Regions from separate parts of the Homo sapiens genome. Here region 1 is linked to region 2. A link means that fine-mapping ties the variant in region 2 to the expression of a gene that starts in the linked region. Tissue or cell type: blood mononuclear cells. Region 2 holds a variant in brackets; the other region holds the start of a gene. All regions are shown on one strand. Distances are from middle to middle.

What was found. PIP is the estimated chance that this variant, and not a neighbour inherited with it, causes the effect.
Region 1: MRPL38 starts here. The variant in region 2 is fine-mapped to the expression of MRPL38 in blood mononuclear cells (TOPMed, PIP above 0.99).

Annotation. Positions count from the first base shown.
Region 1 is chr17:75,901,814-75,909,983 of GRCh38, forward strand. MRPL38 (mitochondrial ribosomal protein L38) reads right to left here and starts at 3,071. Exons shown (of 9, transcript NM_032478.4): 1 at 2,996-3,071; 2 at 2,727-2,906; 3 at 207-341; 4 at 1-107. The coding sequence starts at 3,062. It overlaps FBF1 (Fas binding factor 1), which reads right to left. Exons shown (of 30, transcript NM_001319193.2): 30 at 7,761-8,170. RefSeq lists silencers at 2,867-2,916, 2,937-2,986, 2,997-3,476.
Region 2 is chr17:75,870,318-75,878,461 of GRCh38, forward strand. It overlaps TRIM47 (tripartite motif containing 47), which reads right to left. Exons shown (of 6, transcript NM_033452.3): 1 at 7,557-8,144; 2 at 6,401-6,496; 3 at 5,945-6,175; 4 at 5,584-5,782; 5 at 5,083-5,157; 6 at 3,847-4,806. The coding sequence ends at 4,166. Among named protein-coding and RNA genes, the nearest start is that of TRIM47, 4.2 kb to the right of the region's middle. RefSeq lists enhancers at 5,807-6,722, 5,843-5,912, 6,723-7,638, 7,639-8,144 and silencers at 7,399-7,578, 7,589-7,968, 8,099-8,144. The variant T/C (reference allele first, on the strand shown) is at 3,966.

The DNA of each region.
Region 1 (8,170 bases), 32 kb after region 2:
GTGGAACAGGTCTCGGTAGAGGCCGTAATACTCAGCCAGACGCTGCTTGTGGTAGGGGCCACAGGTCCTCTCCCACTCGGCCCGCACGGCATCCAGCGGGACACTGGCTAGACAGGAATAAGGCCAGTTGGGATACGGGGGTGGGGGGGGCAGGGACACACCCTGTACCCCAACTCTGGGATGGCCCCTCCCCTGAGAAGGCTTACCTGTGCGGAGGCGGGCAGCCCGCTCCTCTTCCACATTGGCCCGAAGCTCCTGGATGGCCTGTTTCCGTTCCAGTAGCTGTTGGGTCCGGGAGACTTTGGGTGGAGGCAGCCCAATATCAATCTTCTCTTTGGGATCTGGAGTGGGAAGATGTGTGGGAAAAACAGGGTCATGACTCACTGCAGCCTTAACCTCCCCAACTCAGTCTCCTGAGTAGCTGGGGCTACAAGTGTACACCATCTCATCTGGCTAATTTTTGTATTTTTTGTAGAGACAGGGTTTTGCCACATTGCCCAGGCTGGTATGAACTCTTGGGCTCAAGTGATCTGCCTGCCTCAGCCTCCCACAGTGTTGGGATTACAGTAGTGTGAGCCACTGCGCCCAGCCATGGTAGCTAATTTAAAAAATCTGAGAGATGGGATCTCATTATGTTGCTCAGGCTGGTCTCAAAACTCCTGGTCTCAAGTGATCCTCCTGCCTCAGCCTCCTAAGTAGCTGGGATTATAGGCGCAAGCCACTGCACCCAGTGAGGGGGCGGGCACATCTTCTTGGTTAAACTGCCTGTCCCTACCTAGTCCTCTCATTCTGTGCTTCAAGCTCTGCTGCTCAAGCTTTCCCTGTGATTCACAGAATTAAAACATACTGTGCAGTCTACTTCCCAGACCTGAATAGGATGTAACTGGGAAGCAAATCAGATACAACTTGAGGTTGTGTTTTTCTTTGAGACAGAATCTCACTCTCTCGCCCAGGCTGGAGTGCAGTGGCGCGATCTCGGCACACTGCAACCTCTGCCTCCCGGGTTCAAGCAATTCTCCTGTCTCAGCCTTCTGAGTAGCTGGGATTACAGGCGCCTGCCACCATGCCCGACTAATTTTTTTTGTATTTTTAGTAGAGACGGGGTTTCACCATGTTGGCTAGGCTGGAGGCTGTGTTTTTCTGATCCCCAAACCAGGTCACAGTTTTGTCTAGGTCATGGGAAACTGAAGTCAATGGTCCTTCCAATTATAGTTGAGATCACCTCCAAGCCTGTTCACAGGTGGCTATGAACACCCAGCTGTCCTAGGTAGAGTGAATGACTGATGCTAGAAGGACTTATAGAAGTGCTTCTCGGCCAGGTGCTATGGCTCACGCCTGTAATCCCAACACTTTGGGAGGCTGAGGCAGGGGGATCACTTGAGGTCAGGAGTTTCAGACCAGCTTGGGCAATATGGTGAAACCCCATCTCTACTAAAAATACAAAAATTAGCTGGGCGTGGTGGCGCATGCCTGTAGTGTCAGCTACTTTGGAGGCAGAAGCAGGAAAATCGCTTGAACCCAGGAGGCAGAGGTTGCAGTGAGTCATCGCACCACTGCACTCCAGCCTGGGCAACAGAGCGAGCCTCTGCCTTAAAACAAAACAAAACAAAATAATAATAACGAAAACATACTGAGCCCTCATCAGAGATGGCATTAGGCAAAAATGCCAATGAATTGCCTCTTTTAATCCTCACAGCAATTTTGTAGCAAAGACACAATTATTTTATTTTACAGTTGAAACAAGCTCAAGGACATTATCCGAGAGGCTGAGCTAGGATTTAAATCGGGCTATTTAGATTCCACGCTTGTGCCTTTAACCACCACAAAACTGCCTCTATAAATGCTAAAGAAAAGAAAAGAAAAGAAAAGCATATACTCCATAAATTGTAAGTTCCTTAAAGGTTGGGGTCTTTTTTTTTTTTTCTTTTTGAGACGGAGTTTCGCTCTTGTTGCCCAGGCTGGTGTGCAATGGCGCGATCTCGGCTCACCGCAACCTCTGCCTCCTGGGTTCAAGCGATTCTCCTGCCTCAGAGGCCTCCCGAGTAGCTGGGATTACAGGCATGCGACACCACGCCCAGTTAATTTTGTATTTTTAGCAGACACGGGGTTTCTCCATGTTGGTCAGGCTGGTCTCGAACTCCCGACCTCAGGTGATCCGCCCGCCTAGGCCTCCCAAAGTGCTGGGATTACAGGCGTGAGCCACCGCGCCCGGCCAGGTTGGGTTCTTTTTTGAGTCACCCTGCCCAGGCCTTTAATTTCATTCAGCAAAGTATTGCACATGTACATCCTTGCACTGTTCGGGTGCAAGGATCCAATGGAGGGCAAGACAAGCAGGATCCCTGTCAACAGGGCGCTTACAATCTGGGGAGAGGCAGCGCACAGTCAGAATGCAGTGTGGCCAGAGTTACCTACAGAGTATTTGAGGCGCACAGAACGGCATCCCAATCCGGAAAGTCAGGTGGTCAAGATTTTAGGAGCAAATATTTTAGGAGCTGGAACTCTAATAGTAGGGGGAGCGAATTTTCCAAGAATGAGGTGCAGAAGGTGTGAAAAATCCTGGGGTGATTAAGCTGCCGATAGCGCACACAGGTCTGCAGGCAGGCCCTCCCAGCGTCCCCAGCATCCACAAGGGCGCCGGCAAGGCTCGCCCAGCGCCCGGGGAAAACGCCGGCGGGTCCCGAGTTCCCCGGGCGGTGGCTGCAGCCCCTGCTCCAGTCGCCCCGCACCTGTCTTCTCCCCGAAATACTCTCGGTAGGTCCGCCACCAGTGCGGGGCCTGCGCCTCCTGCTCTGCTCGGCGCCGGTAGCGGTCGAAGCTCCGGTACTTCTCCAGCCGCTCCAGGTTGCTCAAGTCGATGTCACTGTTGGGCATCGGCCCCAGCGGGGGTGTCCGGCGGCCCAGGACGGCTGCGGGCAGAGAGAAGACGTAAGGCCGGCGCCCCACAGCTCGGGCGACAGCCCCCCCCCCCCCCCCCGCAGAGCTGCCCACCCCTCACCCGAGGTGCTGAAGCCCCGCCATCTCCGACACTCGCACAGCGCGGCTCGCCACCAGGGCGCCGCCATCTTCCCTCCGGCCTGCGACACTGCGGCCGCCACTAGGACCCGGGCACAGGTGGCCAGCGCGGTGCCTGAGCGCACCACAGCAGGCCCCGCCCCTAGGCCCGCCCCCGGGCCCGCGCTGCGGAGCAGGCCTCAGACGCCTGTCCCGGAGGCCCCTGCACCGTCTGCCTCGGGCGCAGGTGGAAGGTGGCCGCGGTCTGTAGACGCCCGGCTCCGGAAGTGCCCGTTGGACGGCGGGGCGGAGCCGAGAGCAGTCATATGCTCGCCCATGGCTGGCCACCAGGGGGCGGCACAGACCGGGGTCGGCCGCCGGGGCCCTCCTCCAACCCCTGGACGCTGCGTCCTGATTTCCCCAGGGACGCAGGCCTGGTTGGGAGAAGGGGTGCGAGCTCCGATTCCGGACTCTGCTTGGGTTTAAAACCCAGATTGAGGGCTGGGCGCGGTGGCTCACGCCGGGAATCCCAGCACTTTGGGAGGCCAAGGCGGGTGGATCACGAAGTCAGGAGATCGAGACCATCCTGGCCAACACGGTGAAAACCCGTCTCTACTCAAAATACAAAAATTAGCCGGGCGTGGCATACGCCTGTAATCCCAGCTACTCGGGAGGCTGAGGGAGGAGACTCGCTTGAACCTGGGAGGCAGAGGCGGAGGCTGCAGTGAGCCGAGATCGCGCCACTGCACTCCAGCATGGGCGACAAAAGTGAAAACTCTATTTCAATAATAATAATAATAATAAAATAATAGTAATAAAAACCCAGATTGTGGCTGGGCGCGGTGGCTCATACCTGTAATCCCAGCACTTTGGGAGGCCGAGGTGGGCGGATCATCTGAGGTAATTAGTTTGAGACCAGCCCTACGAACATGGCAAAACCCTAAAGATACAAAAATTTTTGTATCTCTACTAATGATACAAAAATTAGCCGGGCGTGGTGGCAGGCGCCTGTAATCCCAGCTACTCAGGAGGCTATGGCACAAGAATTAACTTGAACCCGGGAGGCAGAAGCTGCAGTGAGACGAGATTGCGCCACCACCTCGGTGCCAGAGTGAGACACCGTCTCAAAATGCCCCTCCCCCCCCCCAAAAAAAAACCAGATCGTGACCTTACTGTCTTCCTTGTGGTTTCCTCATTTGGGAAAAAGCAGGTTAACACTAGTGCTTACCTGACAGCTGTCAGGATGAAAAGATTACCCTCTGGAAAGCGCTCGCAGTGGTTTGTGTGTTAGCTCAACTATCTCCAACTTCTCATTATCCACACAAAGGCAGAAGTGACCTGGTTAAGTGCAGATGTGAATGTTTCTGGCAGGACTCAGGCTTGCCCTTGTGATCCAGTTCTACCATGGCAAAACTTGGTAGCCTGGGGAATCTGGGACCCTCCTTTGCCCCAGCCCTGGCCCTCCTGCCCTAAAAGGCAAGACTTTTCCATCGCACTTTGCCTCCAGGCCACGGGGCCTTTGTATACGCTGTGTCTTCTGCCTCTCACCTCCTCACTGCCCCACCTTGGCCTGGCCACCACCCAGCCCCAGGAGAGGGGTCTCTCCAGGAAGCCTGCTCTGACATCCCAGGCCAGGGCTGGTGGTGACCAGGCCAGTGGCTCTGGCACCAGCAGAAGCTTGACCCTCACAATCACTTTGAGATGGAATGAGAATGGAATGAGGGTCTCTCCATCCAGCAGGAAGTGGCCACACCTTCCACTGGTTTTCATAAACAGCAGCCAAACAGCTAAACCTTTCACAGTCATTTCTAATCCACCCAGCAGTGTGCACCTGCTACATGCTAAGTGTGGAGGGGAATACGTGGGGCAGTCACACCCAGTCCTGCTCGTAAGGAGTTGCTTATTGTGACATTCCATACTGCAGTTATGCAGTACAGGAGCATAACTGGATTGTGTGTTTACATCGTGGCTGTTTTACCTTGTCCTTTTTTTTTTTTTTTTTGAGATGGAGTTTCTGTCGCCCAGGCTGGAGTGTAGGGGCACGACCTCGACTCACTGCAACTTCCGCCTCCCAGGTTCAAGTGATTCTCCTGCCTCAGCCTCCCGAGTAGCTGGGATTACAGGCATGCACCACCACGCCTGGCTAATTTTTTGTATTTTTAGTAGAGACTTGGTTTCACCATATTGGCCAAGCTGGTCTCAAACTACTGACCTCAGGTGACCCACCCACCTCGGCCTCCCAAAGTGCTGGGATTACAGGTGTGAGCCACTGCACCCGGCCACCTTGTCCTTTTGTTTCTGAATCATTTTCTTCAGCCTCTAAACCCACCCGCTCTACCCCACGACCCTCCCAGCCCTCTCCAGATGAAGATGTATGGGGCCTTGGCAGTTGGCGTGGAAGCTGCTGGCCACCCAGGTGGCGGTGCATTCCTCCATTCTTGTCCTCTTGCTGTCCTAGAACCCTGATTGGCGCTTGCTTGGATATTAACAGTTTGAGAGAGGCTTCACGTGGATTCCCACGTGTACCAACTTGAAGCAAATAACGATGAATATCTTGAAACTAGAAGCAGTGGCTCTACCATTTTAAAAAAATATATGGGGGTCTCACTATGTTGCCCAGGCTGGTCTTGAACTCCTGGGCTCAAGCCATCCTCCCACCTTGGCCTCCTGATAGCAGCTACAGGTGTGTACCACTGCACCAGTTTTTTTTTTTTTTTTTTTTTTTTTTTTTGAGACAGAGTCTTGCTCTGTCGCCCAGGCTGGAGTGTAGTGGCCTGATCTCGGCTCACTGCAAGCTCCGCTTCCCAGGTTCATGCCATTTTCCTGCCTCAGCCTCCCAAGTAGCTGGGACTACAGGCGCCCGCCACCACGCCCGGCTAATTTTTTGTATTTTTAGTAGAGACGGGGTTTCACCGTGTTAGCCAGGATGGTCTCGATCTCCTGACCTCGTGATCCGCCCGCCTCGGCCTCCCAAAGTGCTGGGATTACAGGCGTGAGCCACTGCGCCCGGCACCTGCACCAGTATGTTTTACCCATTACATTCCACCAATATTTCTTTTTCTTTTTTTTCTTTTTTTTTTTTTTTAGACAAAATCTCACTCTGTCACCCAGGCTGAAGGGCAGTGACACAATCTCGGCTCACTGCAACCTCTCCCTCCTGGGTTCAAGCGATTCTCCTGCCTCAGCCTCCCAAGTAGCTGGGACTACAGGCCACACGCCACCACGCCCGGCTAATTTTTGTATTTTCAGTAGAGACGGGGTTTCACCACGTTGGTCAGGCTGGTCTCGAACTCCTGACCTCAGGTAATCCACCCACCTTGGCCTGCCAAAATGCTGGGATTACAGACGTGAGCCACCGCGCCCGGCCGCAATATTTCTCTCTCTAAAAGGAACTGAATGAAGCACTTGGGTTATGATCTTGTTTACAATTTTGAAGGAAAAAAAGAGCTGCAGCTACACAACACTCATTTCTGTACTCAGCCCTCTCCAGTGTCTGTGGCCTGGGAGAAGGCTGAAGGGGATAATTAGGATGCCTGCCACACCCTCATGGCGGTGACAGGAATGCTGAGTGCTTACACTGAGTAAAGTGCCATTATAACTGAGTGCCTGTGGAATGTCTCTGCTTGGCTGTCCCCCCGGCACTGTATACTCATCTGTGACACCACCCAGTCACCCAAGCCAGGAACCTGGGCGTCCTCAACACGTCTTCCTTTCTGATCCTCCATGACTGGCACTAGGCCCGAGGGCCACTTTTCTGTGGGCCCTCCCTGCCATGCCCGGTAGTCTTGCCCACAGTCCCTCCCCTGCACCATTGCCAGCTGCCTTCCCACACATCCTCTGTCCCACTCTTGCCCCCTCTGGTCCGGTCCCCACCCTGCAGACACAATGGGTTTTCTTTTGTTGTTGTTTTTTTTTTGAGACGGAGTCTTGCTCTCTCGCCTAGGCTGGAGTGCAGTGGTGCAATCTCGGCTCTCTGCAACCTGTGCCTCCCGGGTTCAAGCGATCCTCCTGCCTCAGCCTCCTAAGTAGCTGGGATTACAGGCACACACCACCATGCCCAGCTAGTTTTTTTGTATTTTTAGTAGAAACAGAGTTTCACCATGTTGGCCAGGCTGGTTTTGAACTCCTGATTTCAAGTGATCCACCCACCTTGGCCTCCCAAAGTGTTAGGACTACAGGCGTGAACCACCGTGCCTGGCCAATGGGTTTTCTAAAATACAAATATGGTTCAACCTTGTTTAAAATCTTCTAGTGAAGACCTGAAAATTTGCCCTCAGACAAATTTGCCCTGAAAAGTTGCACGTCTTTAACAAGATATGCAAAGCCCTCTCATTCTAACCTCTTCTCCCTACTCTGTCTTGAAGGCCATGCTCTCCCCCTGTGGGTCTCCCAGCACCGCCCTCCCCGATGTATGTGCTTGATCACCTGCAGGTCCTGCAGGTGGCTGCCTAGATACCAGCTGCCCCTGGGCCGACGTGCCCATCCTTAGACCCCCCCAGCTCTTTGCACAGGTCTGCCTCAGGACTGGTTGAGTCTCTTTTGTGGAGAATCAAATTTGAGACTTAACCAAGGCTTCCAATGGGGCATGTGATACTTCCCTCCTCAGTGTTGGTACCAGCCCCAGAAGCGCCTGAAAAGATCTTCCTCCCACACCAGCACCTACCAGGAGTGTAGCCTGCTCCTCTGGGAGGTAGGAGAGCGGGGTGGCTGACAGCGTGGAGCTTGGGGATTGGCCAGAGCAGAACTCAAATCCAGGCGCAGCTACTCACTGTCATTTCAGGCAGGTTATTTAATCTCCCCGGGCCTCAGTTTCTGCATGTTTGAAGCAGGGCTAATAGTACCCTTCTCCTGGCTGTGGTCCAGCTGCCAGGTGCCACCGCAGACCGCAGGTGCTGGAGGGGAGAGGCACGTGGCCAGAGGCGCCTGGTCCTGACCAATCTTATAGGCTGATCTTTTAATAAGAACATCTGCCTGTTCTTTGGGACTTGTCCAGCAAATAACAGGAAACATTTTCTAAGAAATAAGTATAAACTCCGATGAGCCATGGCAAAAGCAGTTTTTTTAAGCTTAGTCAAGTTGAAGCAGCGGGAGTGGAGGAGGATCAGAGAAACCTCTGTAGTTGTGATTGGTTCCTTGTCGCCTCCACTGCGTACCCGCTGAGCTGGGCTTTGGGCAGGTG
Region 2 (8,144 bases):
CCCGAGTAGCTGGGACTACAGGCACGTGCCACCACTCCCGGCTAATTTTTGTATTTTTTAGTAGAGACGGGGCTGGTCTCGAACTCCTGATCTCAAGTGATCCACCCACCTCAGCCTCCCAAAGTGCTGGGATTACAGGCATGAGCTACCACGCCTGGCTTGTTTAGGCATTTCTAAGCACAAGACACACCTAGGCTGGGCGGTATGGAAAGAGTGTTCTGGACTGGGTAACAGTGGGCAGCCCCCCCAGTACCCCTGTGCCTCAGTTTCTTCCTCTGTAAATGGTAGTGGGAGGGGAACGTTGAGACTAGATCGGTGGTTTTCTCATTTTTTTCTTTTTCACAGTTTCTTTTTTTAAAGGAGCCTTGAATCAAATAGGCAAATGCTTCTCTGATTAAGGTGTTGGCAGGGGTGCTGAGGGACCTCCCCCAGCCTTTCCCCAGCCCACCCCGCTCAGTGCACCTCCTCCTAGGTCTTCTCAGAGCATTGTTGGAAAAGTCACTGGGCTGGAGCAACATGCATTCACACACAGGCGTTCACCCAGGCAGACACTCACACACAGCACACAGACACACACGAAGACATACACACATGTATACAGATATACGCACATATACGCATACACACAAAACACATAGGCATGCAGACCACACACACACACTCACACACACACTCTCACACTCCAGGGTGACAAAGGAAATGCGAGATTGTAGCTAACACTCCAGGCTTCGGAGTCTGAAACTTGGGATCTGAAGAGCCAGCCCCTTGCTAGCTGTGCACCCAGGGGCCAGCCAATCCCTGGCTCTGAGCTGCAAAGCTGCAATACAGGGATATGGGATTAAAATGCTTGTTGCAGGCAGGGTACAGAACCCCGTCTCTACATTTTAAAATGTATTTTATTTATTTATTTATATTTTTTATTTATTTATTTATTTATTTTTTGAGACAGAGTCTCGCTGTTTTGCCCAGGCCGGACTGCAGTGGCGCTATCTCGGCTCACTGCAAGCTCCGCCTCCCAGGTTCATGCCATTCTCCTGCCTCAGCCTCCCGAGTAGCTGGGACTACAGGCGCCCACCACCGTGCCCGGCTAATTTTTTGTATTTTCAGTAGAGACAGGGTTTCACCGTGTTAGCCAAGGTGGTCTCGATCTCCTGACCTCGTGATCCGCCCGCCTCGGCCTCCCAAGGTGCTGGGATTACAGGCGTGAGCCACCGCGCCCAGCCAATGTATTTTATTTTATGTATTTATTTTTGAGACAGGGTCTCGCCCTGTCACCCAGGCTGGAGTATAGTGGCATGAACATGGCTCACTGCAGCCCCAACCTCCTGGGCTCAAGGGACCCTCCCATCTCAGCCTCCCAAGTAGCTGAGACCACAGGCGTGCACCACCATGCTGGCTTTTTGTTTTTGTTTGTTTTTTGAGACGGAGTCTCACTCTGTCTCCCAGGCTGGAGTGCAGTGGCACGATCTCGACTCACTGCAACCTCTGCCTGCTGGGTTCAAGTGATTCTCTGCCTCAGCCTCGCAAGTAGCTGGGATTACAGGCGCCTGCCACCACGCCCAGCTAATTTTTTTTGTATTTTTAGTAGAGACACGGTTTCACCATGTTGGCCACGCTGGTCTTGAACTCCTGACCTCGTGATCCACCCGTCTTGGCCTCCCAAAGTGCTGAGATTACAGACATGAGCTATCACGCCTGGCCAATTTTTTTTTTTTTTGAGACGGAGTTTCACTCTATCGCCCAGGCTGGAGTGCAGTGGCGCTATCTCAGCTCACTGCAAGCTCCGCCTCCCGGGTTCACGCCATTCTCCTGCCTCAGCCTCCCGAGTAGCTGGGACTACAGGCGCCCCCCACAGTGCCCGGCTAATTTTTTGTATTTTTAGTAGAGACAGGGTTTCACCATGTTAGCCAGGATGGTCTCGATCTCCTGACCTCGTGATCCGCCTGCCTCGGCCTCCCAAAGTGCTGGGATTACAGGCGTAAGCCACCGCGCCTGGCCCCAATTTTTTTTTTATTTTTGTTTTTTGTAGCGATGAGGTCTCACCATGTTGGCCATACTGATCTCAAACTCCTGGGCTTGAGTGATCCTCCCACCTCAGCCTCCCAAAGTGCTGGGATTACAGGTGTGAGCCATCATGCCCAGCCTCAATATTTTTTTAAAGAGATGTTTGTTTCCCAAACTTCCACGCAAGACTCTGGAGCTACAGGCCACTCTGCAGATGGCATGCTTGCTGAGTGGCTGTGTCTGTGGCCACAGGTGTGACTAGTCATGCCTGAATTCCACCAAGAAAGCACCAGGCCTGTCTAGCTCACATTCCAGGACATGCCAACACTTCCTGCAGGGTCAGAGACCAGAAGGTTCCCTGGCGAGGGGCGCCTGTGGGGTAGGGAGTGCCAAGTTGGGGGACAAGATGAGACAGCAGGTGGCCTGAGGGGTGGGAGCGGTCCTCTGCAAGGTAGGAGGCTTGTAGTAGGTGGTCCAAGGAGCATCCAAGGGGACAGCGGGGCAGCCTTCTCCACCAGCCCCTTCACTGCCGGGTGAGCTGGGGACCCATGGCTGCCAAGGGAACGATGTTGAAAACACAAAGCACCAGGGGCAAGGAGGCCCCGCCCGGAAAAACAACATCCTGGCTGCTAGAGCCCAGGCAGGCTCTATGGGAGGGGCTATTTTTAGCTGCTGAGGCTGCTGGGGCTGGACTTGTATGGCCTTGCTGTCTGGCTGCATAACTCACCCATTATCCCGCCTGACCTTGAGCTGGGCGTCTGTCTGAGAGGCCTCTCTGTCTGCCCTTGCCCTCGGCCACAGCCCCTCTCTGGGGTGCACCTGGGCCACACAGAACCCAGGCAGGAGTGAGCTGGCCTGGGCCTGGAAACACACTGGACTGTAGCCTCAGGGCGCCCCAGGCCTGGCTCAGGTTCTAGGGCAGCAGAGGGCACTGGGCCCTCCCAGAAGAGAGGCAGAGGCTCTCCTGGGGCACAGGTCACAGGTGTCCCCAGCATGGAGGGCAAGAAGATTCCAGAGGGGGACATAAGTCCTTTTATTTTTTGAGATGGAGTCTTGCTCTGTCGCCCAGGCTGGAGTGCAGTGGTATAATTGATCTCGGCTCACTGCAACCTCTGCCTTCCGGGTTCAAGTGATTCTCCTGCCTCAGGCCCCTGAGTAGCTGGGAGTACAGGCACCCACAACCATGCCCGGCTAATTTTTGTATTTTTAGTAGAGACGAGGGTTTCACCATGTTGCCTAGGCTGGTCTCGAACTCCTGACCTCAAGTGATCTGCCTGCCTTGGCCTCCCAAAGTGCTGGGATAACAGGCATGAGCCACCGCGCCCGGCCAGGACATAAGTTCTCTTATTGTAGATGTTCTGGGCTCCAGCCACACCCTGGGCCGGCTCTGTGGGCTGAGGGCTATGTGTGAAGGAAGCTCCAGGTCTCAAAACTCTCTTGCCCACGCCCAGGGGTCCTGCCCTGTTCCTGGAGGGGTGATGCCTGCATTTAATGCTGGGCACAAACAGTACAAACAGCAAAGGCAGGTCCAGAACTAGGCTGCGGCATGAAAGATAAAAATAGCTGGTGGGAGTCAGGCCATCCCAAGTAAACACTCAAGCAGCCAGGACGGCAGTGGGGCTGGAGAAGCCACCTCTGGCTGCCCGTGCTGGGAAAAAGGGAGTGGGGGTGCCCCAAAGGGCAGGTACCCTGTTCCAGCCCCCTTCTCCCAGGCCAGGGCTCCCTCTCAACAGGAATCCTGGGACGAGGGGCTCCGGCCCCTCTCCTGCCTGCCCACTCAGCCAGCTTACAAATGAGAGCGGTTCTGGGAATCCTTGGGTAGAGAGGATGGAAAAGGAGTCATTCATTCAACAAGTGTTTATTGAGCATCTACTACATGCCAGACACTATTCTAGAAACCTGGGAAAGGAGGGGTTAGGGTAGCTTGGAGCTGTCCCAGCTGTAGCTCTGTCTCCCAGAAG[T/C]GAGGTCTGCAGGGGAACAGGGTCTGGGGGTCCTCCTGCCTGGGAGAGGGAAGGCTGAGTGTATAAAAAGGTGGAAGCCTCTAGAAATGAGAAGGCTGGGTGTGTGGGACTCATGCTGGTGCCTTCCCAGACGAAGGAGAGGGCCCAGAGGAGGCAGCTTCCTGGAGCAGAGACGGCAGCAGGAGCGCCCGTGCCCGGCATCACCTCCTCTTCAGCACGGATATGCAGGACTTCTTGAGGGGCCCGATCTGCAAGTGGGCGTCCACACTCTCCAGGAAGAAGGCAGGCTTGAGTCTGTGGGTGAAGAGCCCCGCAAAGTGACTGTCCAGGCGGCTCTGGAAGGGGTCAATGGGGGAGGCCGGGATGCCACCCCGGCGGGGCCGGGAGGCCTTCAGCCTCCGCAGGAGGCTCATCTTGCCGTCCCGTACAGCATAGAAGGCCAAGGCACGGTCAGCGTATTCCAGGCAGACCCCAACCGTGGGCGAGAAGGGGTGGGGCAGGGGAGCCTCCAGCCCATGAAACCAGACGGAGAAGCTGCGTCCATTCCACTGCAGGCAGCAGGAGTGGGCGTTGCGGCCCAGCCGGCCGCGGTCGTAGGGCTCTTGTGGGGAGAAGTCTTCGGCCATGACCCCCATGCTGACCCAGCCCTCGATAATCTCCACCTCCCAGTAGTAGGTGCCTCGGTCCAGGGCACCCTCGCCCAGCACCTGCTCACAATGGGTGAAGCGGGTGGGCGACAAGGGGTAGTTGATAGGACACAGCACCCTCTTGACACCTTTGGTTCCAAACAGCTGCAGGAACTTGTCTGCTGTGTCGCTGTCCAAATCCACAATATAGGCAACTGATCCCGTGGACAGAAGAGAGAGGCAGGGCTCAGGGCCAGGCTCAGAGGGCACGGCCCCTCCCCAAGTACCCACCCCCCCAAAACACAGCCTCTCCCCTGCTTTCCAACCGGCACAACCCAGCCCCGCCGGGGACCACCCCAGGAGCTGCCCTAGCTCTCCCCACAAACTGGGGAGAGGAATCCTAACCCTTGTGTGCCAGGGCCCTGCTGGGACCAGCCCAGCAGCCCTGGGAGGGCCCAGTGTGAGTGGAGGGGGCACGGGCGTCCACTTACACTTGAGGAAATAGTCCCTGGGAGCTTCACTCTCCAAGAGGTTCGTACTCTCGAGGTCTTGGGGCTCAGCATCAGCTGTAGAAGAGGAGACAGTGGTGAGAACGCCCCCAGACTGCCCCCCTCTGAACCTGTGACTACAATCCCTACCCCCTTCACTTCCTCCCAGAGTCCAGAGCCACCAGGGAGCAAGCACCACCCAGATGTGGCACGCTGTGCTCACACACATGCCCGTTGCCTGTGTTCTGCCTCTTGCCCCATGTGCTTCCCGGGCCACAGCCCTCTGGAGCTAGAGGGTGGGCTAGGAGAAGCCCCCTCTACCCCAGGTCCAAGGGGCTGATTGATCCCCACAGGGTGGCAGCTCTAGTCACTGGCAGGATTTGGGCTCCTCCCTGTGCCAGGCACAATTTTCCTCCTCCACTTCTGGATGGGCGCCAGGCCTGGGGGCCTGTGCGAGAGGCTGGCAGAGGGTGAGTCATCGGGGGGGCGTGGGGCGGTGCCCACCTTCCGAGTCCAGCTTCTGTGGCCCATCCTCGTTGCCACCCGGCCCCCTCAGCTGCTCCCACTGGTTGACGCAGGCCACGGCCAGCATGTCTCTCACTGCACGGACAGCTTGGGATGATTTGGTGAAGCTGAGCTCCCTCGGGGGTCCAGGCCCAGGGCCACACCCATCCTCCAGGGCCAGCCTTAGTGCCAGCAGCTCCTGTGCCAGACAAATGCCCATTAAAGTGCTGCTGGCCATGGCTCCTCCTTGCTGGGGGTGGAGGCAGCTCTGCCAGGAAGTCATGCACCCACTGCCTCCTCCTCCCTCCACCCCACCTGTCCCAGCTTCTGTTCCTTCCGTGGCCCCCAGAGCGGCCTTCACCTGCAGGAAGCTGACTGAGTCAGCTTCAGGGACCTGGCTGAGATTCTGGCGGGCTCGGCTCAGGCGGCTGCGCTGTTCCTCCTGTCGCCGCAGGTCACCCTGGGAGCGGCCTAGCATGGCAGCTTCCCCCTCCTCGATGAAGCCCAGCACCTGGGTCTGGAAGCCCTGCAGGGCGGCCGCAGCATCTGCAAACAGCCGGCTCACCCTCTCCCGCTCTGCTACGGCTGCACTCTGCACAGGACGACAGTAGAGGGGGCAATGAGGGCAAAGAACCGTCCCGGACTGTACCCCCCTCCTTCCCTGACCCCGGCTTCCCACCGGCCCTCTTGAGGGGACAGAGGGGCCAGACTGAGCCTGTCCTGGATCTGGGCCAGGTCAGGGGACACTTGTGCTCAGTAGGTATGGGCATGGTTTGTTTGGAGTGGATTGTTCCATGCTGAGGGAGGGGTGTTTGACCTTGATGAGGGCCACTGTGCGCCTGGACTGTGCAATGCCAGCACCCAGCTCGTCCATGCGGTCCTCCACGGCGCTCAGGACTTTGGACTGCTCAGCCTGTGGACAACACCCTCCATGAGTGTGAGGTCTGGCAGAGGCCACAGCCCTACACTCGGGTCCCAGGCCTTGCCAGGGGAGAGAAGGGGGTGACTGGGGAGTGGTATCTGTGCATCAGGTGGGACTGGAGTGGCCACGATGTCCCATAATATGCCAGAGGTGCCTGCAGCCCAGGCTGGTGCCTTTCCTGAACGCCTGGGGGGCGTGCAGGCTGACTGGGTGTCTGCCTCGGGTCTCTGACAGGAGGCCTAGTACAGGGCCGTCCGCTGGTCTCAGTGTTGCTCAGATGAATTTGAGAACTTCCTCCGGCGGGGAAGAGGCAGAGAGTAAGCCAGTTAGGTTGGGAGGTGGGCGGCGGAGGGGTGACTGCACAAGGAGGCATTAAGCTGTCCTGAGGATCACTGTTCCCAAAGAGCCTGCATCCACAGTCCAGGCCTGGAAAAAAGGGGATTCCGGGCAAATCCCCTAGGTCTTATGAGTCACTGCTCCAGGCAGGAGAAACGGAAAATCCCTTGGCCAGAGGCGCCAAGACCGGGCTGGAGGCCAAAGGAAACTGGGGGCGGGAGGTAGAGGCCGCGGCTCACATGCTCCCACCACTGGCCCCCGGAACAGCTGGACAGAGAATCTGTGTGCCCGGTCGCCCTCTGCCGCCCTCCTGCCGCCTGCCACACCCATCGAAAGCTGCTGCCTCAGCCCAGGGCAAATCTGAGCTGAGACCGGCGTGACCCTCCGGGCGGGAGCAGCAGCCACGCTACCGGAACCCCGCGGGCCTAACCCGGCTCCCTCCCGCCTACACCCCCATAGACCCCGGCCCGGCTTCAGGTCCCCTGCCCGCTCTTCGCGTCCTTGTCCTGTTCTCACGTCCCTCCTTCCTCCCTTCCCATCTCCATCACCGCCAGCAGATGACCTTGTCAAGGCTGGAAGGGACCGCAAAGATCCTCAGGTTAGAGGAGGAGATTAAGACCCAACCCGGGAAGACTGGGGGGTCCAAGGTCCTCGGCCCGCTCGCGCGCGGTCGGTCACCAGCCCCGGCTCACCCGAGTGTGCCCCCGGAGCCCACCTCCTGAAGCGCGCGCTCCTGCTCCAGCGGCACCAGCTCGTGGCCGCGGTGCTCCTGTGCGGCGCAGGCCTCGCACAGACACACGCGCTCCGCGCGGCAGTAGCGCTCGAGCGGCCGTAGGTGGCGCGGGCACAGGCTCTCCTCTAGCCGGCGCAGCGGCGGCACCAGGCGGTGTCCGCGGAGGGCGGGGCTGCGCTCGTGCGGGCCCAGGTGCGCGGGGCAAAAGGAGGCGAGGCAGGAGAGGCAGGACAGCGCGGCGGGCAGGGCCGCGCCCTCGGGGCACGCGTCGCAGCGCACTGGCTCTTCGCCCGCGGGCCACGGCTCGGGAGCGCAGGGGGCCGACGGCTCCGGGACACTGGGCAGCGCGCTGGGTGCCGAGGGCTCCGGGGCCAGGGCAGGGGCCGGGCCGGGGCCGGACCCGGGGCCCGAGCCCTGGCGGAGCTGCAGCAGCTCGGACAGCGTGTGGTTCTTGCGGAGCTGAAGGCCGTCGGGGAAGGGCTCCTGGCACAGCGGGCAGCGGGCCGCGCCTCCGGGTCCGCCGGCTCCACTCGCGCCACGATGCGGCCAGAGCGCGCCCAGGCAGGCGAG